Homo sapiens: one gene and its partner. The protein of the gene in region 2 purifies or fractionates together with the protein of the main gene of each other region. This does not show direct contact. Each region holds a gene or a part of one and is shown on either strand. Other genes may lie near its edges.

The links.
Region 1: the proteins of HCN1 (region 2) and ITM2B purify together in Homo sapiens (co-immunoprecipitation; 2 studies listed by IntAct). This does not show direct contact.

Annotation. Positions count from the first base shown.
Region 1 is NC_000013.11:48,235,616-48,251,629, forward strand, and holds part of ITM2B (integral membrane protein 2B), read left to right. Parts: intron 1-16,014. UniProt on the Homo sapiens protein: Plays a regulatory role in the processing of the amyloid-beta A4 precursor protein (APP) and acts as an inhibitor of the amyloid-beta peptide aggregation and fibrils deposition. Plays a role in the induction of neurite outgrowth.
Region 2 is NC_000005.10:45,254,275-45,270,288, forward strand, and holds the end of HCN1 (potassium/sodium hyperpolarization-activated cyclic nucleotide-gated channel 1), read right to left. Parts: intron 12,980-16,014; coding exon 12,815-12,979; intron 8,537-12,814; coding exon 7,647-8,536; 3' UTR 674-7,646; downstream 1-673. UniProt on the Homo sapiens protein: Hyperpolarization-activated ion channel that are permeable to sodium and potassium ions. Displays lower selectivity for K(+) over Na(+) ions.

The DNA of each region.
Region 1 (16,014 bases), on a different chromosome or scaffold from region 2:
ATTTCAGAGCTTGGGCAGTGATTACATAATGTTCTCTGGCTCCTTGCGGGTGGCTCTGTGGCAGCCACCTTGTCTGACTGCCTGGACTGGGAACAGAATCAGCCTTAATGTGTTTTGCCGAGGGCATTTCCTTTGCCTGGTTGGTTGAAAGAATCAAACCAAGCTAGTTAATGGCCTAGAACTCCTGAACAAGAATTTTTCTTATCTTTAACCCTCCCAGATCACAATATCCCGCAGACCATTGTTTTCCAAAATGTGCTCTTAGGGACCACCTGCTCTGGTTTTAAAATGCAGATTCTGTTACCTTATGCCACAAGAATTCTGATCACTCTAATCAGCTGGCTTATATAACATGCATTCCAGTACTTTTACATTGCTCCTGTCTTTCTATTTTTTTCTTCTGCAGGGTGAGAACTCTCCAGAAACAGTTCTATTACCCCATTTTTCAGTCTTATCTTTTCAGCAGCTATTAATCCTAACAGCCATTTCTATTGATAGTTTTATCTCAACTAGCTTGCTGTTTATTCTTTTCCTGCATTTTCCCCTTAATTGTTTTCACCTTCCTCCTCTCCTAGTAGGCATAAAGCTCTTAGAGCTATAGAGACAGCAAAGATGGGATGTATTTTGGGTAGCAGAAGTGAATTTGAAATTATATACATGTTTTATGCTATAGGCAACAATTCATATATTTTTGTGGCAATACTTTGAACCTTGGGAAATTGTTTTATATTTGCAGATAACAAAATACTTGATGTACTGTATCAGAAGTCCCAGTTTTGTCATTACATAACTACTTGATCTTGGGCTTAAATTTTTAGGTTTTCTGTCTGTAAGATGAGAGGGTAGGACCAGATGGCCTGTAAGGATTCTTCCAGTTTCAAAAATCTATGAAGATGCTAGGATTACATAATTATATTTGGCAGACATTAAATTGTTTTAATTGTGAAAAATAGCAACTACCTCCTCACTCTAACCAGACTATTCCCTTTCTTCCTTTTGGTGTTTAACATGTTACATTCTTCCCTCATATCAAGTAGCAGTGGGTCAAAGAGAAAGGAGATGGGTAGAGGTATTATGTAATAAAGCACATTGTCACTTCTGTTTACCTCACAGTGAACAGTGAAGTTGTCAGCACCTCTTTGTTGCAATGCCTGCTTATGAAACCCCTTTTCCAGTATCAGGCCACAGAATAGCTTAAGCTTGCTTCATATGTATCCCTGCAAGTTGTTTTGCTGACAAATAGTGTTGCTTTCTCTCTACCCCACTTTGTAGATATTCTTTAAAAGGAGAGAGAAAAGTAAAGTGCTGATATAGGAGAGAAAATAGTGGCAGGGTGAGTGCAAGAGAGAAAGTGAAGGCCGACTCACCCAGTAAAAGTTTTGAGTTACCCATGACAAATGGCTGTTTAGACCCTGGTTCTTTACCCTTTCTGGTTTTCCCTATTCACACAATCAAGACTGAAGGTTTTGATAATTAAGCTTTTCGTTTGTGGTGGTGGTTTTGTTTGTGTGTTTTTTGGGGAGTGAGGAGAAGGGACATAAAATGCATGGCTGGCCATTTACTATAATGTTGATATAATGCTCTCAAGGGATTGAGAGCTTGGTTCTCTTTAACCAAAGTGCATCTTATTACCTAGTTATGTAATTCCGTGTTTGCAGATATTGGCCAGTGAAACTTTTACATTACATTTTGGTTCTCCATGAGGATATTAATATCTGAATTGAGGGTTTAGTGCTGGGAAATAAATGAATTGCGTCTGTGCATCCCAAATGCCTTGGCAGGACCTCCTGTGTACACATCCCTGACAGGACACTGCTGTAGCATATTGGGTGTGCAAGGTTGCATATTGCACAGGATTGTAGTCTTCCCAACTAGACAGAAATGAGTATAATATACTTGGCATAATAAGCCTGAGTGACCTCATGGAATTCAACTCTGACATATAAAAGGTTTATGTGACTGGAAGTATTTTTTAAGCAGAAATATCTCAAATACGTTTATGTTACAGGCCTATTTAAATTAATTTAGAATTTGACTTACAAGGTGTTTATTATGCATTTCCAAATCTTGACTTGTGGGTAAATGTACATAGAAACATGTACTAAGTAGTCATTGGGGGAGATTTTATTTCTCTTAGTTTTATCATACCATAACTTAAATGTCTGGCGTGTCTATTCAAAACCCACATTCTTTTTCCAAAAGGAAATACTACTTCCTGAATTCCTAGATTTAACTAAAGCTTCTTGTACTGCTTTGTATGTCAGTGTCAGTAAAGGAAGACTCAGAAAAAAAAATCTTTTTGGGTTACCAGTAAAATCATCCTCTTAAATTTTTTGGCAAACGTGGCATTTTATTAGAGCTTAAAGACTAAAGGAAAAGAAATTAAGGACTTTAGACCGTTACTGAAACCTGTTAAAGGATTTGACAATTCTGAATTTCTGAATGAGGTGATTTTTGCCTAAATGATATACAAAATATTAACACTGGAGCTGTGCTTCACAATGAAAGTCTTTTCCAAAGTAGACAGCTGAAAGTTGAAAATTGGAAATTATAACACTAAGGACATCATTTTTGAAAAATTTCCACTTAATTGTGATTATCCCTTTTAATTAGTACTTACAACACATATTTTTAATAGCTTTAAGGAGATCTACAATACAACCTCATTTTATAAGTGTTATCAACAATTGAATGAACAAGATTATTTTAAATTATTGTGCATTCTTTAAGCTCTTTTATTAGAGGAAAAAACTTTTTGCAGTATTTCTATAATTGTACTTGGGGAAAAATCAGGTAAGAATGAACGTAGACTTTTTATTCTTAAACAGAAAAGTTTGAATCTTGAGTTGTAGCGATGAGGAAATTACCCTTGTTTTTATGGTAGAGATATATTCTGATTTTTCACTTAATGTTTTATCTTTCAGTACTGATAAGTTACCAGCAATAATTTTATGATGTTGAACTAACATAAGTACGACAAAAGAGAAATAAAATTTTCACAGCTTATATATAATACCACTTCTGAGTTAAATATCCTGGACGTTTATTTGGGAAAGTGATACTAAGTATGGTGGTGGATATTTTGTACTTTGAAATTTTGAAATATTTGCATAAACCGTTTTTGGCATAGTTGAATTTCATACTTTAAAAAACAAGTTTGGTGGATTTTTGTGTTTATTTGAATGATTAACTTTAAGGCTCAAATTATTATTTTTTTTTAGTGAAAGCAAGTTTATTAAGAAAGTAAAGGAGTAAAAGAATGGTACTGCATAGGCAGAGCAGTCAAGATGCAAATTATTTTTAAAAGTTGTTTGTTTTCAGAATGAGTTAAGGATAAAGCTTAAGTCTTAACTATTTTCTCTGCTTATATATGATTATAATGTTTTAAATTATTTTATATAAAAATTTTAAAAGATGCATTGTTAATTAAATCACTTGAATCTCTGCAGTATCCAAAAGCAGACCCATTTTTATGCTGGGGAAAATGATTTTTGAGAGCTAGTCTATTTAGCTTTGCATTATCAGTTTTCAGTTTTTCATTTTATATAACTTTATCCAATTCATTTTTTCCTCCCTTTAATACTGGGACATAAAATTTCCTGTCTATCAGTTTTACCTAGGGCCGTGCTAGGCATCTTAAGCAGAGAAGGCAAATTCAGTGTCTCCTGGGCTGAAGCAGATGAATTGTTGAAGCTGGACTTTTTGCATATGAAACAAGTAAGAATATTCTTGGTTTTCCTGCCAGGCGCAAGCCACCGCCTGTAATCCCAGCACTTTGGGATACTGAGGCTGGTGGATCACCTGAGGTCAGGAGTTCGAGATAAGCCTGGCCAACATAGCAAAATTCTGTCTCTACTAAAACAAAAATTAGCCAGGCGTGGTGGCATGCGCCTGTGATTCCAGCTTTTTGGGAGGCTGAAACAGGAGAATCGCTTGAATCTGGGAGATGGAGGCTGCAGTGAGCTGAGATTGCGCCATTGCATTCCAGCCTGGGTGACACAGCAAGACTCTGTCTCAAAAAACAAAAGAATATTCTTGGTTTTCATTTTTAAAACATGAGTCCAGTGTTGCTGGATCCTCCAATTTTCCAAGGCAAGCTAAAAATCAGTACTATTTTAATTTATACAACAATTTTAGCCCAAAACACTGAAGGCATGGGCCACTATTTTATAATCTCCTTTAAAGTGGAACGCAGGACTGGCAAATTATAGCCTATATCTTCAAATACTGCCTGCCTGCTGTTTTTCTGTAGCCCATGGGGTAAGAATGATTTTTATATTTTTTAATGGTTGGGAAAAATATCAAAGGAATGATATTTCTCCTTTTTGCCCAGTACCCTCACTGAATTGTTGGGGAGGGGCTGCTGCTATTCAGGAAGCAGCAGCACTAGCAGAATTCAGGTTATACAGTCATTCTTCAAAAGATTTAAATTTTGTCTCTATCACTTACTTTGATACCTTGGGTAAGTTACTTCAGTTCTCTGTGTCTCAGTTTTTTCATCAGCAAAATAGGGAAAATAATAATCTGTAACAATAATAGCACAATGCCTGGAACAGAGTTAAAAATTAGTAGATTTCAGCTACTGTTATTTTTATTTATTTTTTTGTTGAGAAACAGTCTTGCCCTGTCACCCAGGCAGGAATGCAATGGTGTGATCTTGGCTCACTGCAGCCTCTGCCTCCCGGGTTCAAGTGATTCTCCTGCCTCAGCTTCCCAAGTAGCTGGGATTACAGGCACCTGCCACTATGCCTGGCTAATTTTTTGTATTTTTAATAGAGACGGGGTTTCACCATGTTGGCCCGGTTGGTCTCGAACTCCTGACCTCTTGATCAACTACTATTATTAAAGTCCCAGTTTTCTCTCCTCATCATTCTTGTTTTGGAATATTACTTCTTATATTACTGTTACTGCTTATCCCTGCCTCACATGTCAGTAACAATATTGTTGGTACTTTTTTCACAGCAAGGCATTCTGGTAAAGATTGATTCCTGCAACATAAAAACCCTTAGGATTCAGTAGCTGTACCGATTTCATTTAAAAATGTTATTTATTCATTACATAATAGGTGTTAATAGAATTTGAGTTTTACCAAAGTAATACTAAATTTTAATATGCAAATATATAGTCCTGCCCTATGTCAGAGGAACATACTTTAAAAAAATTGTAGCATCATTGTATACAGTAAAATGCATAGATCATGAGTGTACAGTTAGATAATTTTAAGTCTGTATACCTGGGCTCTAACTCCCAATCAAGCTGAACATTGTTATCAACTCAGAAAGTTATCTTGTGTCCTTTTACAATTTGTTCTCCTTAGAGGTAACCACTATTCTAATTTTTCTCCCCATAGATTAATTCAAAGCAATCATATTCACTTATTAGCTTCTTATGGTCTTTTATTACCATGGTGACCACTAGACCCTCTTCTGCCTTTGTGCAATTTAGAAAAAGATCCCCTCTCTGGTGGTTTGGAGAATAGAGCATCAGTTGGTTTCTAGACCTACTGATTCCCTTGGCCTGGCATCCTTGTACTGGAAACAACCTGCCCAACCATACATGGCGATCTTAACTCCATGTTTCTCACTTTTTGCCCCAGTAGGGCGTGGTGCGGCGGGCAGCAGAGTCTTGCTCTGTCACCCAGGCTCGAGTGCAGTGGCATGATCTCGGCTCACTGCAACTTCCGCCTCCCAGGTTCAAGTGATTCTCCTGCCTCAGTCTCCCGAGTAGCTGGGATTACAGGTGCCCACCACCACTCCCAGCTAATTTTTGTATTTTTAGTAAAGACGGGGTTTCACCATGTTGACCAGGCTGGTCTGGAACTCCTGACCTCAAGTGGTCCACCCACCTCGGCCTCTCAAAGTGCTGGGATTACAGGCTGAGCCATAGCACCTGGCCCTCCATGTTTCTCTTTTAACTCCCTATTTCTCTAAATCAGTGGTTGTTAAACATTTTGCTCTGAGAACTCCTTTATAGTCTTAAAAATTGTTCAGGATCCCAAAGAGCTTTTGCTTTATGTAGGTTATATATATTTCCAAATAACCAAAAAGATTTAAGAAGACTAACAGTAACATTGTTTTACATTCGGCAGTGCCCTTTATTGAATAGCTTAATAGAAGATAGCCGGATTTTCCTATCAAATTCTTCATTCAGTCTGTTGTGATATGGTGCTTAGCTTCTGGAAAATTGCACTGTACAATTTTTATTGTATATAAACATAGCGAGAGAATGAAAGTGAAAATGACAGTTTTATTATTTAAACTAACACAGTCTTAGTTTTATTATGAAAAAAGTTTGACCTTGTGGACCCCCTGAACGGGTGTGTTCCTGGACCACATTTGCAGAACATCTATTCTAAATATTTGCTTATACTGCTGTTTCATGGTTTGTTTTCATTTGTTTTATTTTTTGCAGTTTTAGATAATACCTATTGATAATAGCTACATGGAAGGTGAATATTTAGCTTTTTCTGAATATTTACACACTGCACACATGATCTCTTCTCCTGTTCTAGCAATTTCTGGTTAAATTGATATTTAGTGTTTTTTATTATAATTAACATAAACATTAGTTACATTTGAGTATTGTAGTATACTTTTATTTTACTTCCATTCTTGTATAACAACTTTTTATTTTCCCTGAATTTGATCATGCTTCTTGGGGCAGGAGAGAGGGTTCCTTAATTTTCTACATACTTACTGCTCATTCATTCCTCAGACTCTGACAGCAGTATAATTGTCTTTCTGTGTCTTCAAACTCACCAGGTAACTTACCAAGTTTCTTTCTTTCTTTCTTTCTTTTTTTTTTGATGATTTCTTGCCCATCATTCATTAGTTTTCTATTCCAGACTGGTTGCACTCATACAAATGTCCTGAGAGTCATAATCATCTTGGAAGAATTGCCTTTGTCTTTATCACATGCTAGATCTACAGTTTCATAAATCTGAAGAAAAAGATAAATTTTTAAAAAATCTTACGTGTCTCAGAATCGTTATTCCATCCTCATATTTGATAATTTATCTGGGTGTAAAATTCTAGGTTAGCATTCATTTTTCTCTCAGCATTTTGATGGCATTGCTCCATTATCTTCTAATGTGATGCCATTCTGATTCCTTGTTTGTACATGACTTTTTTTCCCCCTTTGGTTGTCTACAGGCTGGTGATTTTCTCCTTATATCTTTTTTTTCTTTTTTCTTTTATGCTTTCAGCTTTCAACATTTTTATTGACATGACTTGTCTGCTGTCATTCATTTTCATTCTTTGTGGCTTAAGGTTTATTTGTTTTATCCCTTTACTGTCGCTTTATTGAGCTTTCAGGAGGAAGTAAACAAACATTTCACTGGAAATCAATATTAGAACTTCAACTTAGCTATCTTGATAGCTTTTTAAAGATTTGTTAGAATATTTCCTTTTACATTAAAAATTGACTTAATGATAATTAATAATGGATAATAATGGAAACCATCTGAATTACCATTAGCATTAATTTAAGATCAGACAGGATGGTCTAGAAAGATTGATGAGGCATCCTCTGATCGTCCTCTTCAAAGTTCCAAGATTGTCTCCTTCATGAGGAATTTTAGAGGCAACTCATTACCAACTTTGTAGTTTTGCTTTGTGGCATTATTACTCCAACTAACTTAAAAAAGTTTCATTTTTGTAATTAATATGTTGCCTTTTTCATTTATGTTGAAATGCTTATGTGCTGGTGTGCCTTAGTTATTTTCCTTTATTGTTTTAAGTTCACATGTATGTGATTTTAATACTTTTTGCTACCATCCTTTGTAATTTGTTGAACAACAGAGAAAAGCCCTATTAATTTTGACAACATATTAAAAGTAATATTACTGCCTTTGTAATAGTTCACACATGTAGGGCTTATTAGTGTGGGTCAATTTAAGTAAACCTTTTACAACAGTAGAAATTCATGCTGTGGGCCGGGCATGGTGGCTCACGTCTATAATTCCAGCACTTTGGGAGGCTGAGGCAGGAGAATTGCTTAAGAACAGCCTGGGCAACATAGTGAGACCTCCACCTCCACAAAAAAATTTAAAAATTAGCCATGTGTGGTGGTGCACATCTGTAGTCCCAGCTACTTGGGAGGCTGAGGTAGGAGGATCACTTGAGCCCAGGAGGTTGAGGCTGCAGTGAGCCGTGATTGCACTATTACACTCTAGCTGGGGTGACAGAGCAAGACCCTGTCTCAAAAAAAAATTAATTAATTAATTAAAAAGTATATATATTTAATAAAAAAAATCAGGCTATGTGGTTTCTGGTTAGGAGTATTATCCAAGTGTGACATGGTGTCTGTCACTTCATTTATTACCAGAGTTAATTTGCCTAAGCTGTTTGAGTCAGTTTCCTTAAGCAGCACATAGAGTCAAGATAATATTCAGACTTTATTAGCTCTGTGATATTACATAAATAATTTTACTTCTCTGGGCCTCATATTTATCTGTAAATGATGTATTGGATTAAACTACCTTCATGGTACTTCCATAGGGGATCTATTCCTGAGAACTGTATTGATCATATATTCAGAAGCACCTACTGGATAGCCAGGTACTATACCTGGAATTTAAAAATTGCTAAACACCCCAGCTTTCAAGAAACATTGTGTAGCTAGGGAAGACCAACCAGTTATGAAAACCAAATTAGTCACAACCTATTTAAATGCCTATATTTATTCTTAGAAGAAAATCACACCGCTGGATCCAAGAGCCAGGAGAGTGGTGGAGTAAGGGAGCAACATTCAATATTACCACTGAGTTTTTACTGCACATGCCTTCAGTGCTAGGCAGTAGGGCTCATAGGATCAAAGCACTTCTCACATGTAGAGAGACAAGTATTCCTGATCTTTAGAACTATTTTTTCTAGTAGTCATCTTGTTTAACATTTAGAATTCCAAACTTGGACAGAAATTTTCTCTTAACTATCCACATTTAAATTATGTTATACTTTCAGATGAATATACTTGGAATTTTCTTACCAAAAGTTCTGCATTTTAAATGAAATTACCCATATTTGAATATGAATGTATAATTATCTTGTTGAAAGACATTAAAAGCCAGCATTTATATAAAAGTGAGTCTAGAACAGGTTTGTTCTTTTTTTTCTTTAATCTTGACACTGAATTTTATAATGAATTATATAAAATTAGAGCATTCGAATTGTGCTTAAAATTTTTAGGGAAACTGTTGATACTGGTAACAATGTGGAGTTTCATTCAGCCAGTGGTAGAGAAAATCTGTCTTCACCAATTTATCCCGGTAAAGGATATTATTAACAATAAATAACATTTGTATATAATGCTGTTGTTTATGAACATTTACCTGTTTGTGCTAATCTAGGCTTTTTGCTATCCCAGTGCCTTTTACTCACCAATATGAATTTGAAATTCTGCTAAAATTTCACTTTATAAAACGGATACAAGGCCGGGTGCAGTGGCTCATGCCTGTAATCCCAGCACTTTGGGAGGCTGAGGCGGGCGGATCACTTGAGGTCAGGAGTTCGAGACCAGCCTGGCCAACATGGTGAGATCCCGTCTCTACTGAAAATACAACAGTTAGCTGGGCCTGGTGGCATGTGCCTGTAATCCCAGCTACTCGGAAGGCTGAGGCAGGAAAATTGCTTGAACCTGGGAGGCAGAGGTTGCAGTGAGCTGAGATGGCACCACTGTACTCCAGCCTGGGTGACAGTGAGACTCCGTCTCAAAAAAAAAAAAAATGGTTACAGTTCTGTTCAGCATAGATTGAATAAACACAGTAGAGAAATGATGGTCATTTTTTAAACTATGTAGAAAAAAGAATAAGAGATTTTAAACTTATTATTCATATAAATATTCTACTTTGCACTAATCTGCTTGTCTCTGATACAAAAGTGATTAAGTTATGATCCAGTTCTAAATGCATTGCGTTGATAATCTGCCTGTTGTTTTTTTTTTCAAGTTCCAACCTATTTTTATTTAACCTAAAACTGTGCTAGTTTTATGTGATGCTAATAATTTGGTTCAAGTTTCATAGATTTCTGACAGTAGTTACATTATTATGCAGTGGCTTTAAATTTTAATTTTTTTTCATTCTATATTACTGCTTTTATATTGCAGGATTTTTTAACAAAAAAGTATGTTAATGAGGAATCTGTTTTATAGACCTTGTAGTTTAAGTTCTTTTTTTTTTTTTTCGAGACAGAGTCTTTCTCTGTCGCCCAGGCTGGAGTGCAGTGGCATGCAGTCTCTGCTCACTGCAAGCTCTGTCTCCTGGGTTCACGCCATTCTCCTGCCTCAGCCTCCCGAGTAGCTGGGACTACAGGCGCCTGCCACCACCCCTGGCTAATTTTTTGTATTTTTAGTAGAGATGGGTTTTCACCGTGTTAGCCAGGATGGTCTCAATCTCCTGACCTCATGATCCACCCGCTTCAGCCTCCCAAAGTGTTGGGATTACAGGCGTGAGCCACTGCACCCAGCCTAAGTTCTCCTTTTTAAAGCCTTCCCCTGTTCGAATTCCAGTACAGAATAATTCCATAACTTCATTAATCATAACATGTTGGTATAATTCCCAATTTTGACTGTAAATACTAATTTAACTTAACTAAATGAAATCTAATATTGACAGAAGGTCAGAGGCCTTTGTGAAATAGAGTACTCACAAATATAGAGAGCAGCTTTCTGTGTAATGCCAGACACTAGGAAAACTGCTTCCTTTTTATGTGTCAAACATTTATCACGTGGACTTCCTCACTACAGTCAAGACAGCAGCAATCTCATTTCAAAAGGCAAATTAAAAAGCAAAATTCAGATACTGATTTAAGTGAATAAGAAAAAATGCAAACAAATGTTTGATGTCCTCATGGATTGTTAACTTCTCAGCCAGAGATTTTGTGTCTTACATATACCAGATATATTTGATAATCAGTGCAGTTAATAATTAGCGGATCACCACATCATGTCCTTTTGATGCTTTCATACTGAGGAAAGAAACCTAATGTAGAAACCAAATGAATATGTCCCAGTGTACAAAACCCAGAACTCAAAACCCTTTATATGGAGAAGTAGTTTAGATTGATTATTTAATATAAATAGGATCCCAGAAGGAAGTATACCCAGTCATAGCTGGAAGTGAAGATCAGAATTCAAAACCTATATTTGGTCTCCAAGTAGAGAGAAAAAAAAGATAAGAGAGAAGTTGAAAATACTAGAACATTGATGGGAAATTTAGTTTTTGGTTTTGTTTTGTTTGAGATGGAGTCTCGCTCTGTCACCAGGCTGGAGTGCAGTGGCATCATCTCAGCTCACTGCAACCTCCGCCTCCTGGGTTCAAGCGATTCTCGTGCCTCAGCCTCCCGAGTAGCTGGGATTACAGGCACAAGCCACCACACCCAGCTAATTTGTGTATTTTTATTAGAGACGGGTTTCACCATGTTGGCCAGGATGGTCTCGATCTCCTGACCTTGTGATCCACCTGCCTCAGTCTCCCAAAGTGCTGGGATTACAGGCATGAGCCACTGCGCTTGGCCGGGAAATCCTAGTTTTTAAAAGTGCGAATCACTAAATTTTTTTAATGTCCCAGCTGTTTTGCTGTTTTGGAAAGCATTATACCAGCCAAACAACACATCTGTGGGCAGCTGTCCTATGCACCCCCATATTTACCTATGTTACCCAGCATGTTTCTGAGTAACTAAATCTATTTCTGAAGGTTCAGTATATTTTGAGTTGAATAAATGGTATTGGTTCTTTTTTTATGTATATTTTTTGATAATATAATTTTTAACACTAAGAGTTGTTTTCCTCATTAGTATCCTGATTCCTAAAGCACTGTTGTTGAATTTGATACAGAAATGTAAAATATTGTATCTGAGCACTTTGAAAAATGTCTCTTAAAAGCTTCAGTCATCCTGTAAAAAAATGTTCAAATAGAGGTGCCTAAGAATATAAAGTGATTTGTTAGTTTGAGAACAGAATTGAAATTATACGAAAAAATATACATTTTATTTAAGTTTATAATTGAAGCACATTTACTAAAGCCTCTTAGGGAACTGATTGAGGTGACCTAATTCTTAACTAATTGAAGTACCAGAAAAGAATTTGTCCTTCATTTTGTTTAAGATATAACTTCTTAAGTAATTTTATTTTATTATCCAATGCTGAGATTTATTTGAACTAGAAATTAGTACTGTGCCAGAGTGAGAGTGCTCCTGAAAGCCAGGTCTTTCTATATCTACTGTTGCAAGGTGGTTATAGGCCAGCGTGTGCTGCAGTGTCTTCTTTTATAAACTGGGCTAAAAAACTTGAGGTTTAGGAAGATTAATTAGATGATAATTGTACAGCACCTGTGGGAGTTCTGTTACCTTTTAAGCGCGATGCAAGGTGCACCAGTTTTATTGCAGTAGAAGGGAGGAAACGTCTCGGTGACTTGTTTTAAATTAGGCCAGGTAAAGTTATATACCCCAGTGAAGAAGCTCTTACTTGTTAGTGGTTTTTTTCTTTTTAAAATTATGAAATATTTCAGGCACACAAAATACAGAGAACCTGAAGTATATTTTATATGTTTTGAAAGTCTTAAATATCACATACTTACATAATACTTAAATATGTGGTGTTATATGTTGTGCAACGTGCCTTTTTTGGGGGGGTCAGCAATTATGTTTCTTAGGCTTATCTAAAAATCAGCAGTGCTAGTACTTTTTTTTTTTAATTTTTATTTTTTAAAAGAGATAGGATCTTGCTATGTTGCCCAGGCTGGTCTGGAACTCCTGGGCTTGAGCAGTCCTCCTGCCTCTGCCTCCCAAAGTGCTGAGAGTATAGGCACGAGCCACTGGGCCTGGTCACTAGTTGAATCTTTTTAGCAGTATTATATGAATCTATAATAATTTATTTCGAATTTTTTTTTTGTTGCTGACAATGTAGTGTATATTCTTGGACATATTTCCTTACATATTCAAAAGTTTATCCAGGATTTATACCTAGGAATGGAATTGCTAGGTCATAAGATAAATGTATGTCAGAGGTGTCCAATCTTTTGGCTTTCCTGGGCCACATTGGAAGAAGAATTGTCTTGAGCCACACATAAAATACACTAACAATAGTTGATGAGCTGGGAAAAAAAATCACAAAAAAAGTCATAATGGTTTAAGAAAGTTTGTGAATTTCTGTTGGGCCACATTCAAATCTGTCCTGGGCCACACACGGCCATGGGCCACGGGTTGGACAAGCTTGATGTATGTTTATTAGATACTGCCAAATTGTTCTCCAAAGCAGTTGGACCTAAATTTCTGTCAATTGAGTGGAAGTTCCCAAGTTCCCTTTGTTACACACTTTTTCTAGCACTTGGTGTTAGACATTCTTTTATTGCCTGGTAGACAGGAACTCAGTTGATTTCTTCCCCACCCTCCATATCAAAATATAATTTACATGGAATAAAACTCCTGCATTTTATGTGTACAATTTGATTGAATTTATGGTAATTGTATAAAGTCATATATCCACCCCAACAATCAAGATACGAAAGATTTCCATCACCCAAGTAATTAGTTTCCTCATGCCTGTTTGTAGTCAGTCTCCCCTTCCCCAGCCAGTAAGCTGCTTTTGTCATTATGGTTTTGCCTTTTCTAGAATTTGATAAAGATGTGATCATATAGTGAGTAATCTTTTGTGCTAAACTTCTTTCACTTAGCATGTTTTTGAGATTCAGTCCCGCTGGTGTGTGTTATTTTGTTCCTTTTTATTGCTATCTATTTCATGGTATGAATATACCACAATTTATTCATCAGTTGATGGATATTTGGGTTGTTTCTAGTTTGGGGCTAGTATATAAATAATGATGCTGTAAATATTCATGACTAAATTTTTGACTCAGTTGATTTTTGATTATTGATCTTTAAAAATCTTGCCACCCTCTAATTAGTTTAAATAATTTGACTTTCTTAGATTTTCTACATAGACAGATTATTTACAAATAATAACAGTTTTTTCTTTTTTCTAATACCTAATCTTTTTATTGTTTGTGTACTTGCTGTAGGATCTCTAGTACAGTGTTCAGTGGAAACAGTCAATTTTAGTGGGCATTCCTGTATTCCTCAATTAAAAGGGTATGGTGAAGTATTAAAGTTTCACCATTAAGTATGAGGCTTTCTATAGGCTTTTGATTATTAGCCTTACTGATGTTAAAGAATTTCACCCTTTGCTAGTTTGCAAAGATTTTTTTTTAATGGAAGTTGAATTTTGTCAAATACATTTTCTGTATATTTTGAGATAGTCATGGGGTTTTTCTTCTTAAATCTCACGTGGCTTTTTCTTTAAGTAAAGCTTACTCTTTGAAGTGTTAAAATTTAATCACTCTAAAAACACTTTTAATAAATCTCTTAGATTAAAAACTTTTAAATCTTGAGCATACTTTAATCCCTTCTCCATGACTCGGATTGTATTATGGAACATCATTTATCTATCATACGTGATGTTAATTCTTGACTATAAATCGCTCAAAGTAGGAGCCATGTCTTAATCACATTTGATTTCCCACAGGATCTAGCACAGTATATTGCAAATAGCAAGCCTTACTTAATAAATGCTGAACTAGGCTACTGCTCTTGCTAAATAGCCACAGTTTGTTTTACGTTATGAATTATGTTGCATCTCTCCCTTCCCTTATTATCACGCTGGCTGCTGGTATAACTTTTATGAATCATAAAAAATTAAATAACCAGGCTTTTTAAAAAAATAGATCTAAGTTGGCCGGGTACGGTGGCTCAAGCCTGTAATCCGAGCACTTTGGGAGGCCGAGGCGGGTGAATCACGAGGTCAGGAGATTGAGACCATCCTGGCTACACGGTGAAACCCTGTCTCTACTAAAAATACAAAAAATTAGCCGGGTGTGGTGGCGGGCGCCTGTAGTCTCAGCTACTCGGGAGACAGAGGCAGAAGAATGGTGTGAACCCAGGAGGTGGAGCTTTCAGTGAGCTGAGATCGCGCCACTGCACTCCAGCCTGGGCAACAGAGCGAGACTCCATCTCAAAAAAAAAAAAAAGATCTAAGTTTTATTCACTCATCAAATATATGAGTGCCAGCTAATGCCAAGCCTAAGCTTGGCTTGGAGCTACCAGTAATGCAAAATGAATATGAATGGATACTTAAAAGATCTTATAGCCTAGTAGAGAGAGATAAGATCTTTATGTGAATTATTCTCATGAAAGAAAAGTGATAATTAGGAATTTAGAGAACAAAGATTAGATAGACTTTGAAGATTAAACAGCTCTTCTATGAAGTACATGATGGTGGTGCATAGGTTTGGGGTCTATAATTTGGCTGACCAAAGACTCTTGTTTATTTCCTGATTCTTAAGCCACGTTTCACGTTGTTGAGGTGCTGAATAAATTGACCTGTGGATAAGTGAAGTATTTGTAAGTGAAATTCCTCAAGAAATTGAATTTTAAAAAAATATTCAATAGTGCTGAGAAGTGATTTTTGAATGAACATGAGAAGTCAAACTCTAGCATGGTTTACAAAGGTCTTTTGTGACCTGCACCAGCTTCTTGTCCATCATTTCTCATACTCATCTCCACCATATTGGGCACTCCAGCCAAAGCACATGTGGCTCTTGGAAATGTCATGCATTTTAGCTCCATAAATTTTGAAAAATCATTGCCATATATAAAATTTCCTTTAACTCTATCTTCTGCTGAGGTAATGAGTATTTGTCCTTTAACATTCCACTAAAGTATTTTCTCCCTTGGGAAGTCTTCCTGAAACTCATCCCCTCTTATGTGCTCTCTGTGCATTTTCCTATTAGAGTTTGTATCATATTTATTTTCTTTTTGTATATTTATCTGTTTTCCGGACTGATCTAACAGGTCTCTTTCTTGGCAGAGCATACATTTCCAGTGCCTAGCACAGCTCTTGGCACATAGTAGACATTTATAATTTATTCTCAAAATGATTGTTGAACAGTTAAAAATGATATATTACAATGCCTTGAAACTTGTCATCAATTTGCCAGTTGGGGCTGCGTATTCTTTTACAGATGTC
Region 2 (16,014 bases):
GCACTCTGTAGCTAGGATTGTAAAACGCACCAATCAGCGTTCTGTAGCTAAGATTGTAAAACGCACCAATCAGCATTCTGCAGCTAGCAAGAGGTTTGTAAAATGCACCAATTAGCACTCTGTAGCTAGGAATGTAAAACACACCAATCAGTGCTCTGTAGTTAGCAAGAGGATTGTAAAATGCACCAAACTGCGCTCTGTAAAATGCACCAATCAGTGCTCTGTAAAATGCACCAATCAGCAGGAGTCTAAAAGTAGCCAATCGCAGGGAGGATTGAAAAAAGGCACTCTGATAGGACAAAAATGGAACATGGGAGGGGACAAATAAGGGAATAAAAGCTGGCCACCCCCAAGCCAGCAGAGGCATCCCACTGGGGTTTGCTTCCACCTGTGGAAGCTTTGTTTTCACTCTTACTGCTCCTTACTCTTTGGGTCTGTGCCATTTTTAAGAGTTGTAACACCGCAAAGGTCCGTGGCTCCATTCTTGAAGTCAGTGAGACCATGAACCCACTGGAAGGAACCAACTCCGGACACAATATGACTATATAATTCTACCATGGGTAGAATAAGCAAGTAGAGCAAGACATAAGCAGTAGAGCCAGTTTTTGTAGTCAGGCTTTCTAAACACTGCAGGTGTATAGATATAGCTGATGAAGAGAAGCTCTTTGCAAAATATTGACCACATTCATTTATTTTTATAATGTCAATGTATTATTGATAGCATTAAAAATGTTACAGAAGGCAATGGACACATTGTACTGATGTGATATTAAGAAACATTGCTAGCTATGGCACCAAAATTTATGTGACATAAGGAAATTATAATACCTAACACATATTAGTTTTCTCTTCCCTGGTTCTAACTAGCAAGTGCCAGGAGGCAGGCTGGGTTAGACAGCGTGACCAAGAGTAAACTTTGGATGGTCCAGGATAAAATTATAACATAGGTGGTTTGTCGTTGCTTGTGTTTATTTAATGTTCTCTCGCTTTCCTTGTCTAGCCAAGATCCCATGCTATGTTGACTTGTCATCTCCAGAAATGTCTTCACACTTGGAAGTTCCCTTAAAAAGCCCTTAAAATTTACCTCCTCTAGGACTTACTAGTTCCAATTTTTTCAATATTAATACACATATGAATCATCTGGGGATCTTGCCCAAAAGCGGACTTCTGTAGGTACAGGGTAAGGCCAAGGACTCTGCACTTCTTGTAATTATACTTCTGGGTGATACTGACGCTGCAGTTCCATGCACCACACTTTCCACAGTGAGGCACGCAAGAACATTTAGAACTGCACATTTTAAACAGAATTGTAATATGTTAGGTTGGTAATAGATGTTAGAAGAGTTAGGCAAACAAGATTTAATTTTGAATGCTTGGAAACTAAGACCTTGAACAAATATGAGAAAGAAATGAGAATACATTTGGAAAACTCTTTTTGAATCTTTCAAATTTCTTTGGGTTATGTTCTTTCTTCCTTCAAAAGTAAATCTTTCCTTTCTCAGGAGTTTTCCTCACAAATTTAACAGGAAATAAAAACCTTTCAAGAAAGTCTCTTTGCCTCTACACATCTGAATATTCTCTGTAGAAAACGATGCAACCTGTTTTTTTGCAAAATTCCGTTATTTAAAAAAAAAAGTCTGAATAACTCTACGTTACCTGAATTCAATTATATAATCTATTGGAAACATAAAGTGGTCCTCTTTTGAAGAATTATTATATTTACTAATTTATTCAGATTTCTTCAATTGAATGAATCAATAGTATTCTCTGCTCATATGGTATTACTGAAACAACTACATAGAAAAAAATAGCAGGGCCGGGTGCGGTGGCTCAGGCCTGTAATCCTAGCACTTCTGGAGGGTGAGGCGGGCGGATCACTTGAGGTTAGGGGTTCGAGACCGGCCTGGCCAACATGGTAAAACCCTGTCTCTACTAAAAATTACAAAAATTTAGCTAGCCATGGTGGCGGGCACCTGTAATCCCAGCTACTCTGGAGGCTGATGCAGGAGAATTGCTTAAACCTGGGAGGCTGATGTTGCAGTGGGCCAAGATCCTGCCATTGCACTCCCACCTGGGTGACAGAGCCAGACTCCATCTTAAAAAAAAAAAAAAAAAAAGATGTTTCCCTTTGGGAGTAAATGGCCATTGATGTTACATTAGAAATATAATAGCTCCAAAGAATGTTCACCTTTGCCACTCTTTGGAGCGTGTGTGATATCTCCAATAGAAATTAAAGAACTGGCTTCACTTTTTTGTTTGTTTGGGTTTTTCTTGAGAAAGGGTTTTGCTCTGTCCCCCAAGCTGGAGTGCAGTGGAACGAACAGGGCTCACTGCAGCCTTGACCTCCTAAGTTCAAGCGATCCTCCTGCCTTAACTTTCTGAGTAACTAGGACTACAGGAATACACCACCTATAGTCGGGTTTTCTAAACACTGCAGGTATGTAAGTATATACTGGTCAATTAAAAAAATTTTTTTTCCTTGTAGAGACCAGGTCTTGACATGCTGCCCTGGTTGGTCTCCAATTCCTGGCCTCAAGCATTCCTCCCACTTTGGCCTCCCAAAGTGCTAGGATTACAGGCATGAGCCACCACGCCTGGCCTGAGAACTTGCTTTATTTTAGCCAAAATTATTTTATCACTTCTTTCCCTTCTCACAGGTTCTAGCTCTTATCTTCTTGTACCCCTTCCCTGCCGCAATATATTATCTTACGCAAAGCAAGTAAACTTTCAGTTTCCTATTCCCATTACTCTATTTAGCAAACCTAGGACCTTCCTTAGGACCCAGCATCCTCACAAGGCAGGGTGGGGTTGTAAATAGCCCCCAGTTTTTGCTGTGTCATAAATTATTTTATTCCTTGTTACATTAGCAAAACAGACATTTCAATGTGAATCCTCCCCGTTGATAAGCTTAAATTAAGAATATAAAGTACAACACTGTAAAACCTTTGCCCTGATGTTAAAAGCCTTTCAGAAGGTTTTTGAAATCCCTATTTCCCACTTGATCTGGGTTCCTCTTCACCCTGTGAGACACTCCAGCTGCATTGAACTGCCAGTGTTCCCAATCAGCTGTGCTCTGTTAAACATCCACATTTTAGAAAAGCATGCTTAATTTTTCACTAAATGATAATTATTTCCCCAGCATTTAATGTATTACTCATTCTCTCCACATCAAGGACCTTGTAAACAAATTCAGAGCATTATCTGTAGGTTCTTTTAAGATCATCTTTAAATAATTTTCAAGGTGGGATGCGGGGAGTGTCAGCAAGGCTTCTCTCATTAAAAAACCTTAAAATCTCCATTTGTCCCTGTCAAAGCCTGAATTGGAAGCAGGGTCAGCATTAGGGTGAGACAAGAGATGCAGGGTTGTGCAAGTGCAGGGTTGTTAAAAAGGAAAAAAATTGAAATTGCTTAAGAAAGTCATTGCTTTTGAGGGGTAATAGCAGGTGTACTTCCCTAAGTACAATAGCAAATCTTTCAAAGAAAATTTCTATCCTATTTTTCCTTGAAAATAACCATATTGAATACAGTTATAGAACTGTATTTTATTTATTTGTATGTGCTACAATTTGGTGCATGCAGCAACCACAGTTCCTTAAATTTTTGGCCATTGTTTTCAGGACTCAAAATAGCTCAGCATTCCATTCTATAAGGCCCATGTTTCTTTCCCATGGTACAGTATGAGTACTTTTTAAAGTAGGTGAACATAAAATAAAAGTTTGCTAGTTGTAGTGCATATGAACAAAATAACCACATGGGTTTTATGGCACATGTTCTAAAAAGATAAAGATATAATGGAGAGATATCTCATTCAAACAGGTTAACATTATAAACAGTGCAAGTGAGGGCCATAGAAGCAAAGTAACATAGTAAAATTAACAAATATAAAAACCTAAGCTGAAAGAGGAGGTATGGAGATTTTTTAAATAGTCCTGAAAGATAATAGAGATTGCTCATAATTTGAAGTAGACATAATTCAGGATTTGAAATAAATCATCTAAAATTTTAAACATGTCATATTGTTTAAATCATTCTCTGTCCTATAGGAATGACGGTAATAACTTGACTATGTACTTTGTAGTGTCCTGAAAATAGTATGCTCAGTTAAGTTTATAAATTGCAAAATAACCATCTCTTTAAAGTGGAACAGCATTCATCAGGGAATTGTTCACTTATGAAGAGGTCATCCAGACCTGGAGACAAGCTACTTTTTTGGTGAATAGAATATATTGCCATTGCTACTATTTATCCTCCTTGTTTTCAGGAATGCTTCACTACTTATTCTCATTATGATAAACTCTATCTCAGGCTTTTAGGTATCATTTAAAACCCACTTGTGTGGGGAGGTTCTATCACTCTCCAAATAACTTTGCAGGGCCCAAGGCTATAAATATGAATATATTTATACAAACCTATTTTGTTATAATAGGGCCTTGGGCCTACTATACAAACCTATTTTGTTTAAGGCTATAAATATGAATGTATTTATATAAACCTGTTTTGTTATAATAGAGCCCAAGGCCCTATTATAACAAAATAGGTATGTTATAAAACTATTATAACAAAATAGGTATGTCATAGAACTATTATAACAAAATAGGTTTGTATAAATATATTACAGGACAATTATTTACCATTATTACAGGAAAATTATTTCTCATCTGTATATCCAATAATTACACAAAATGGTTGTGTTTTGAAGTTGGAGAACAACCACATTCTAAAAAGGCACAGAGCAAAAAAGAAAATAAGCTCATATTTTACTATACGAAAAAGGTAAACAAAGAAGTGGTTGAAAAATCCATGTTCTATTTAAAGTCCTCTCATTCCAGAATTATAGAATATAATTGATTTTATGTGATTATCAAGTATAAGCTCTTGGAAATTTTATGATGTAAAAATAGAGGCAAAGCTGTACTCATTAATAAAATAAAACATTTGATTAGCATATATTGATAAAATAAAATATTCATGATTGTAGTTTATTTTTTGTTGAATTTATTAATAATCTTTATATATATTTATATATGTATGGCTTTGAGCAAAGACAAAAGAAATACTCTAACTCATCCCTGATCATACAGTTGTTGTAAGAATCAGCTATTCTATTATCTTTCCAGCAGCAGAAAGACCAATGAATAATACATTTCTTTCTGTACAGATTAAAACTCCATACATACGGGCTTCACTATGTACAGAGAAAAGAGGTCACTTTTCAACTAGCAATGGACCTTTATATTACAGGAATGTGAGTCATTTTTTTTTCTTAATCTAAGTATATATACATTCATACATATATGTATATAATTTACCCTGTACCTTTTTATTAGTTTAATATATAAACCTTAGTTTTTTTGTCCATTCTATTACAAAGTGAATAAAAATTGTATGGTTGCACTGAAAGACCATGCATTTCAATTTTGCTTATGTTTCCCAATAGTGCTCAAAATAAAAAACCAAAAATTTATATATATAAAAATATTTCACTACCAAATCCATTAATCCTATCAAATGTAAACCTTTAATAATTTAAAGGACCAATACGTAATCTTAATAAATTGAAGTTAATTCTCATATTTTAATAAAATAAAGGAGTTTTGTACTGATATGTAAATGGTCTTGCAGCTTTCCCATAGGTTCTAGGTAGACTGAACAATCCCTTTCTTACAACAGTATTCCTGACATGCCATCATATGTCACCAGCATATTGATGATTACATTACATCGACTAGCAGTTAATTACTTCCACACCAGTTGGGATTTGTTTGAAATTAAACATAACAACTCATTTTGGTATTATAGGTATTATATCCACAAAAGGCATAACAGGCAGCAAGGATCCACTTTAGAGTTTCTGCTTTTGTTTTTGTTTTCTGTCCTCAAGTCTATCTGCAGGCCCTGTCCCACATAATGTGTGATCTCTGTATGTTCTTAAATGTATTGCCAGTGCCAGAGATACTGAAGACCTCCACTTTAAGTCATGCTCTTAACTTGGGTTATTTACCGCAGCCAGTTGTTAGGAATCTTTCAATTGTGTTCCAGTCATACTCCACATGTGTGGGATGCATTAGGCACAAATGATTACTAAGGGAGTTCTTTGAGAAGAAGCAGGTGCTCACAGATCATGTAAAGAGTTAAGAAAACAGACAGACAATGCTCATAGACGTTCAACTTTACCCCTGCTTTCTGTCACCATGTCTGTACTATTTTCAACACATTAAAAATGACAAACCTCCTATCTAAGGGCTACGTTAGTCACCACATGCCTTAAAGTTTACTAACCATTTAGTTACAATATACATAGAGCAAAATGTGTGTTCCCAAACAGACGTGATGCTGTATTGAATTTATTTCTTTAAATTAATACCATAGTAAATTACCAGCTACAGTGAAGACACAGACAACACTTAACTCCAAATCAAGCTGTGGTTTACAAATAATTATTTAAATAATAATAGCAATAATATTAAATAAAAGTGAAAACCTCACTTCTAGACTTAAGTCAGAGATCCAAGTCAGCCTTATAGGAATTATAAGATAGGCAATTAATGAATTGTTATGCTTTTCTAGAAACGAGAAATACTGTAAGCCTTTCTCTACAATGACTGATTTGAACCTATTTTTTTTTCCCCAGAAGCATGCAGGGACTATTTTCAGATGCTTGATTATGGCAAGAAGAAAGAAAAGTAACGATTTTTGGTGTAATACAAGCAATTTGTAGATTCGAGCATACAATTTTGCATAAAACATTGCAGGTTAAAATAATATTGTAGGTTTCAAGCCATTGCATTACAATTGAATAATTCTCACAATCAGGTTTTGTAAAATTTAAAACTCTAAGTTTTGAAGTGAAGCAATAAAACTAAATTCTTAAACAATGACTTTTACCTTCATACAACACAGAATAGCTATTTTTATTTGGGTTGAAAAAGTTATTTACAACTAACATTGATCGAGTCTTGGTAAAAGTCCGATAACACATGAAGACAAATATTAATTTTCCCTCAGCTTTCTGAAAGATCAATGAACATGTTTGAGGTTAGTGATATTCTTAACAAACAGTGGCAATGCTAGTCTCCTACGGTGGCCAAGCAAGTAGTGCATTCTTTAACCTAATTTGAAATTGAAAGCACCGAAATACAATTTAGATCTATAAAATGGGATTTGTTATTTAATTCTCCACCATTAATGATTAACAATTTAGATGCAGAGACACAGCTAATGAAAGAAAGTTTTGATTGGTGCTATTTACTAGTTCATTTGAGTTGCCTTTTTAAAATCAGTTTTGTTTCCATTGAATCCAAGAACTCTTCATAAAATAGAGAAATATACATATCAAAGGACTTAAGTAAAAGTAGGTTAGAAATAAATAATCTTACAACGACATTTTAAATCCTTTAATGATTTAAAGAAAGGAAGACATATAACACTGAATGCTAAACAGGTCTTTTGACCCTCTCTTGGGAATTTAGATATATATTTTATAGTATATGTATATATATTTTTACATTTCACGTGTAGGCCACAGCTGTCTAAAATATCTCTTCATAGTAGGCTAGAGGGATCTATCAGGAGATAGAATAAAATAAGATCTGAGTATAGTCTCAGTTTATGAGAGTATTTCTTTCTGCTTTGACAATCAGCAGGGATCATAAATTTGAAGCAAATCGTGGCTTTTCTGCGTCTGGGTCTGTGTTTAAGACTGAGGAAGATTCTCTTGGAAGAGCAGCTGCTGGTGGAGGGGGTGCTGGAGGGACTCCTCGGTTCGGGGGGATGGCTCCCGACGACATCTGTCGGAAGAGGGTGACGCGCTGCGGGACAGTGCTCCTGCCCCCTGCCTGAAGGCCCGTTCCGGGGACCGCCGTCACGGGTTGAGGGATGGAGGCCAGGGACTCGCCCACAGTGGGATGAGGTCTGGAAATCAGAGTGGACACCTCATGGGGCAGCGAGGGCTGCGAGGCGGAGAGTGGCCTGACTTCCCGGGTCAGGTTGGTGTTGTGAAGCGCCTGCGTGCTCTTGTGCACTTCATTTTTCGGCGTGGAGCTGCCAGGTGTCTGTGGCTGCGGGGACGGCTGCTGTGGCTGAGTCTGCGGCGGCTGGGACTGCTGTACCTGCTGCTGCGGCTGCTGTTGCATGAGTGACAGCTGGGAGGCGGTGGGGGAGGCATAGTGGAAAGTTCGAGCGGCCAGAGGGCTCTGTACAGGAGGGCTGCAGACCGCGGTGGTGTAGGAGCAGGGTGACAGGATGGCTGATGGCTGGGGGGTCTGTGTGCTGGGACTGGGGGAGTGCAGGTTGCTGTGAGACAGGCTGGTCGCTGTGTACACCGGTGGAGATTGTGTCCTCATGCGGGAGGTCGGGGTCGTAGTAGACGATGTGGAATTCAGGGTTGTCATTTGAGGATAATTGATGGGAGCGATTGCCTGCACCATCTCCCTGTCATGTTTCACAATCTGCTTGAGGATTTCGTTCTCCTGATTGTTGAAAACACCAGTGTTCAGATCCTTCTGGAACTTTTGCAGAAGAATTGAATTTTTCTTTCCTGTCAGCAAAAGAAAGATAGGCACTTAGAAAGCCTACCAATGACTGATGACAACGCCAAGTGAGAGTGGCTCCTGCAAACAGAAGTATAGCTGTGCTTCACAGGAGAGGCTTAAAAAGCCAGTCACTCACCTTTACACACCAAATACCAATGTGGCTCCTACCTTTCACACTTCCTGTATTTCTCTGGGAACTCTTACCTTCTACTCAAGTTGAACGGCCTGTAATATGGCAAAGAGCCACTTTACAGAAGAAATGGAGATATTTAACATGAGGGCCACCTTGAAGAATGGGGGAAGAAAGGGCTTTTGGAATAGGATGGGCTTGGAATCAACATTTGATTTTAAAGTTACTTTTTCAAGAAAGGACCATGGAGACATAAGCGAGAACATTTGAACACGTACTATGTGATAAGCACTCTACAAAAGACCTTAGGTAGATGATTTTATGTAACCCGCGACCCTGTCAGATAGGTGTGTTCATAATCTCATTTTACCTGAAAGGAGATCAGGACATGAGAAGACTAAGAACAGTGCCCAGGAAAACAAAAAAAAAACATGGTTGGCAGGTAACAGGGCTGAGAAAGACCATATACACAAAAAAGTGATTGCACATCCTTGCTATGGAAAATGAACCAACTGCCCCTGTCTCATCTGTGTGCTTGCTAGAAACTCAGCCTCCTGGGCCTGACCCCACTTGCTGAATCAGATGTTGCATTTTACTAAGATCCCCAGGTGATTCCCAAATGCAAATCTGAGGAGGACTGTATCAGGTTTTGCTTTTGACCCAGTGTCTTACACCAGTCATTCTCAGTCCTAGTTGGATATTTTTCTTATCTCTGGAGCTTTAAAAAATACTAACATCCACTTGTTCCCTACCAATTAAATCTAAATAATCATACATGGGCTCTGAATTTCAGTAGTTTAAAAGCAAATTTCCCCAGGAAATTCTTTTTTTAAAATTTATTATTTATTTATTTTATTTTATTTATTTATTTTTTTGAGACGGAGTCTCGCTCTGATGCCCAGGCTGGAGTTGCAGTGGCACCATCCCAGCTCACTGCAAGCTCTGCCTCCCGGGTTCATGCCATTCTCCTGCCTTAGCCTCCTGAGTAGCTGGGACTACAGGTGCCCGCCACCGTGCCCGGTTAATTTTTTGTATTTTTAGTAGAGATGGGGTTTCACCATGTTAGCCAGGATGGTCTCCATCTCATGACCTTGTGATCCACCCGCCTCGGCCTCCCAAAGTGCTGGGATTACAGGCGTGAGCCACCACGCCCAGCTTCCCCAGGGAATTCTTAAATGCAGCCAAGACTGAGACTGACTTTATGATCTTTCCTCTTCTGAATGGTTGTTGTGAGGACCAAGGGCATAGTGCATTGCAGGCTCTCAGCTCCCTCTAAGACCTCAATAAATTTTACCTTTTCCTGCCATCATCTTCTGAGTGGTTTGCAATACAGCTTTTCCTGCCATCATCTTCTGAGTGGTTTGCAATACTAGACAGTCTCTGGCATAATAATTATTAGAATGAATAGTGGATTGGTGAAAGAAGGGGAAAGTAGTGACTTTTCTATGGCATCATTGATACACTAATCTCCAAGTGAATATGGTAACTGAAAAGTGAATCAATTTGCGATATTGCTAAATAAACTAACACATTAAAGGTAACAAAATATATTTTTGAAGATAAATATGTATTGTAATTTCATTGACTGCTAGGAATGCAATCATTTTAAATGACTGCCAAAATAGTTACCTCTCCCTACTTACAGACTGTCCTAATTTCCCAAAGAACAAAAACTCCTACATTAGTAATAAATATAAATGCTTATTTAGCATATTTGCTTAACTAACTGCAGCATACATCTATATGCAATGGCCACAAAACCGAGAAGCATAATGTTTCTTTCTGATTATGTGAACAGTCAAAATATCTTAATCTAAGTATCTTTAACCTTGGGAAAAATAATGTAACTTTTAATACACTCTTACTATGTTATAAAGATCAAAAATTCAATTGCTTAGTGCCTATTAGAAATTGCATTGCCTGTATTGATTACGAACCATTTCATGTAAATATTGTTATAAAAATTAACTGCAGGCTGGGCGCGGTGGCTCATGCCTGTAATTCCAGCACTGTGGGAGGCTGAGATGGGTGGATCATGAGGTTAGGAGGTCAAGACCGTCCTGGCCAACATGGTGAAACCCCGTCTCTACTAAAAATACAAAATATTAGCAGGGCGTGGCAGTGCACACCTGCAGTCCCAGCTACTCAGGAGGCTGAGGCAGGAGAATTGCTTGAACCTGGGAGGCGGAGGCTGCAGTGAGCCGAGATCACACCACTGCACTCCAGCCTGGGCAACAGAGCAAGATTCTGTCTTAAAAAAAAAAAAAAATTAACTGCAATAAGTTAGATGAAAGTGAAGCTGTATCAGATTAACAGAAATTATCTAGTGAAATATCCTGATTTTAATGTTTTCTCTAAGGATGTCTAGCTGGTTTAGGAAGAAACTCATTGCTTAGAAATTAGTCTCTGTCTCTAACATAAACACTCACACACTACAAAGAGGGAAGTTATTTTCCAATTAAGTAAGGATGCCTTCAGGAGTGCCTACTTCTTTTGTGGGTATTGTCTCCCTGAATGAGTAGGTCTTGTTAAATCTCTAAGATTTCAATATGAATTTCTAATACGTTTGTTATATCTAATGATGATGTCCAAATACTGCCTTTACTTCTAATCTATTTTCAGATCTCTATGCAGTCTGCTGTCCTACTAATATAGAGAGAAAGGAAGATGTGAATGTGAAGTGCAGAAAAAAAGCCAACATAACAATTTATCAATCTGAAGTCCTTACCTTTAATAAGAATGAAGCAGTTGAGGTACCTCCTTGTTTATCACAAGTGATCCCAGCCCCATCTTTTTTGAGTTCATTTATTCCTTCCTCCCTTCCTACCTCTCTTCAACAAATATTCATTGTATACTAGGTACTGTGAATGTAATGGTGAATTAAACATGAGCTCTACATTGACAAATTTAGCATCTCTAGAGCCAGTAATAAAAGCAGTGCTGTGATGGGGGAGCTTCAGAGGCTATAGGAGAATGCATCCAAGGAACTGGGCTTAGTAGGGAGTGGGAGGTCAGAGAAGGTTTCTAGAGGGAGGTGATATCTAAACAGAGAGAGGAAGGTTGAGCAGAGTCGAGCTGACCAAAAAAAAGTAGAGAAGGGGAGGGTGGCAAAGAGGGTTTAGGTGTGGAAAATGAATGCATACTACCTTACAACATAATGTTCCAGGATATCTAGGAATGTTAACAGCAAGCCAATCCAAGCTAACTTTACTATGGCAATTATGCAAATCTTCAAACTAGCATAACTAATAAGGCCTAATGGTTGTATATATATATTTTTTTATTTGGTAGCAGAAAAGACTTTAAAATATGTTGATGTTTGCGAGGTAAAGCATCTATGTAGGGCATTACTATCAAGGCTTTTTTTTTCTGCTTGAGTCTATATTACAAACATTTTATTATGTCTCTGCTGAGATTAATTTAAATGTGCAAATTTTCAATTCCTAATATAAAGATAAAATGTAAAGTTGATCCAAAAATACAAAAAAAGTGATAAAACTTAGTTTGTAATATAGACTCATATATCATATTTTTAGTTCTATTTCAATGCTATCTAGAATTTTTATCATTGCTTTTTACCTGAAGATTCAAATTGTTTTGGCATCAGTCGGGAAATCAGTTTGTTTAGCTAGCAAAAATAGACATTAATAAATAAACCCAGAATACTTAGAAGAGATAGATAGGGACCCAGATCTCTCAAGAAATACGGCTACAGCTAATTGCTATTTCTACACAAATTAACAAGCAAGCTATAAACTGGCATGTGGGATTTTTTTTTTTTTTTTTTCTCTGAGACAAGGTTTCACTCTCTCTCCCAGACGGGAGTGCAGTGGTACCATCTTGGTTCAGGGCAACCTCCACCTCCCAGGCTCAAGAGATTCTCCTGCCTCAGCCTTCTGAGTGGCTGGGATTACAGGTGCACGCCACCACACCCGGCTAATTTTTGTATTTTTAGTAGAGACAGGGTTTCACCATGTTGGCCAGGCTGGTCTCGAACTCCTGACCTCAAATGATCCACCTGCCTTGGCCTCCCAAAGTGATGGGATTACAGGCATGAGTCACCACTCCCCACTGCATTTGGGACTTATAATTGCAAACCTGTATTATGCCAGGAGATTAAATTTTATATAAAGAAGGTAGAAAACTAGAGTACCTATTCGATCTAGTCGGTCAATGGCAACTGTCTCAAAGGCTCTCCTCATCATTGGATATTCCTCCAGGACCTCGTTGAAATTGTCCACGGAAAGTGAGTAAAGACGACAATATGTATCAGCTCGAACACTGGCAGTACGACGTCCTTTGGTCAGCAGGCAAATCTCTATAAAAACAAACAACAAAGAAGAATGACTTGTTTGATCATTTTCTTTTAAAAGCCATTAAGGCTTCCCACAACTTAAAACAAGTCTCATGGTGTGAAAAAACAATTATTAGCAGCATTTTCTATTATATCAGCAAATTCCTTCTGACAAAAATATCCGACTGCCAATACTCAATCTTAAAATAATGTTTTTTTGTTTTGTTTTGTTTTAAAAAAAAAAAAAACAGTTGAGAAGGCCAGGCGCAGTGGCTCACGCCTGTAATCCCAGCACTTTGGGAGGCCGAGGTGGGTGAATCACGAGGTCAAGAGATCGAGACCATCCTGGCTAACATGGTGAAACCCCGTCTCTACTAAAAATACAAAAATTAGCTGGGCTTGGTGGCAGGCGCCTGTAGTCCCAGCTACTCGGGAGGCTGAGGCAGGAGAATCACTTGAACCTGGGAGGCAGAGGTTGCAGTGAGCCGAGATTGTGCCACTGCACTCCAGCCTGGCGACAGAGTGAGACTCCGTCTCAAAAAAGACAACAACAACAACAAAAAAACATGGTTGAGACTTTTGGTTTAAATGCAAGGCTGAAACACAGTATACCTTATCCTTCCCACTCCAATCCTCTGAAATAAGAAATAAAGAAAAAAAACAAAAACAAAAGAGATGCAGAAAATGGAATAAAATGTCCACAAAGGAGTTGAAAAAAGAAAGGGGTGATGATTAGAAAGACGATTTTATGAATTCTGGAAGGCAGAAAGCAGATGGTATAATCTAGGCAGAAGCCAAAATGAGTCCAAACATTGGCTTAGAAAGTCCTATGATCAAACAAAGCTAGACCAGAGGTTTAGATATAGGCATGTCTAATGTAGTTTGTATATTCCCAATGAGATCAGTATGAAGAAAGTGATATTCCACATGTACAGAGGGACTCTCTATTTAAATGACTTTTAAGGGTAATTCCTTACTGAAATTTAGATTTCCAAAATATGGTAAACAAACATTTGCAAATTTGGATTTCATTATTGGCCAGCTGAAGCTATATAGCTATTAAGAGATAATTTTCCATTTTGTTTTCCAAAAATTATGATTTGAACTACTGTAGGCTTTGATTATTTTTAATTTGGAAATAATTTAAACATTTAGCTTCAAAATAACAAATTTGAAAAGAGAAATGATAGAAGTATTTCTAAAATTTAGTCACCTAACAAAAGGAAATAAATATAATATTAAATGTCTAAATTCACACTCGAGCTAATTTAAAGAAGTTCTATTTATGTTGACAAACACTGTGAATAAATCACGCTGTAGACACATGTACGTTCATTTGAATACAATCTGGTAAGAACAATGTCACATATATGCAAACTCTGAGAATACTAGAGAAGGACACGTGAACCAGTCTGGGAAGATAGAGAGGATTTTAGGAAATGTCACCTAAACCATCAATTATGCTGTTGTTCTTGTCAAGATTGAAAAGTAATGTTGTAAACCTGCTAAATAATATTGTGGGGTCTGTGTGTTTGTCTGAATGTTTTTGTGCCTGAATATGTGTGTGTGTCTGTGTAGGAAAATAAATCTATTTTGGTCAATTTTAAAGCAAATTACCATACCATGGAATTTACCTGCTACTGTAATATAAACAAGGTAATTAAAAGAAGCATTTTGAATACTACTCCAAAATTAAATTCCTGTGTCACTAAAGTACTAATGCCATATAATTATAATTTATGATTGCCACATTATGGCAAACAAAGCTAAGTGTTGGTTTCAAATCTTGTGTGGAATGCTAAATGAAAGAAGACAGACATGAGAAGCCACATACTGTGTGATTCCATTTATGTAAAATATTCAGAAAATACAAATCTGCAGAGACAGATAACAGATTAGTGGTTGCCTGAGGCAAAAGATGGAAAAGGGAATTAACAGTAAGTGGGCACAGGAATCTTATTTGGGTGATGAAAATGTTCTAAAACCTGATTTGTGGTGATGGTTTCATCACTTGGTAAATTTACTTAAAGATATTTGAATTCTACACTTTAATGAATTATATGTGTAAAATACGTTGCATTAAAGCTATACAAAGTGAAAAGAAAATTAGTTTTGTTTTTATTTTTTATCTTTATACTTATTATATTTTCATTTGAATTTATTTTTTCTGAACTCTTTCTCTTTACTCTGGAAACATTGTTTTGTCTCTTTTTCTAGGTCTTTCTCTTGTGTGTTGAATGTTTTCTTTTGGTAATCTATTGATGTCCAATCACATTTAAAGATAAAAAACTCTGGTAATGTTGCAGAATTTGTTAATTTAAAGTTTTTCATTAGGGTAAATAGGCGGGGAGCTTGTCCTCATATTTCTCTAAATACCAGAATGAGGAGGGCTTTACTCTAGGCCACTGACATCTCTCTTAACTGTCCTAGTTCTCCCTCTCATTCAATTGCTTTATGAACGAACCACTGACATTTCCCCCCACTATCCTCAGGTACATGGTTGGCTACAGACTATTCCGCAACATGGAGGGAGGGATGTCTCATACCTACCATCAGCATAAGTCACCCGCTTTCTGTTCTGTCTTCTGTGGTCCTGTTGTCTCTTAACTAAGAGCCTGTTTAGTATTCTTCCAGGATACCTGCTGTCTCCTTGGCTCCCGTTCTTTGTACGTATATTCCATGTTCCCTCTACTTTCCCTTCAAGGTTCATCAGTAACCACCAGCATACATTTAAATGCAGGCTACAGAATACCTGAATAGCACTGGTTTATCCAATACATTAATGTCATTATATTACAAAACAAAATTTGGGAGTAGGCAAGGCCAGCATTTGTTCAGCACTTCAATGATGCCAAGGCACTGTGCCCATAATACTTTTGTTTTCCTTGGCCTTCTTCTCATGATCACAAGTTGATAGCAACAACTACACACATTCATATACTCACACAACAGCATCCAAAGTTTGGGGAGACAGCAAAAGACTTTCTTCCTATATTTCTTTCTTTTTATTGTGAAGGCAAAAGTTGTACTACAGGTCCCTAACTTACTTTCTCTGGCAT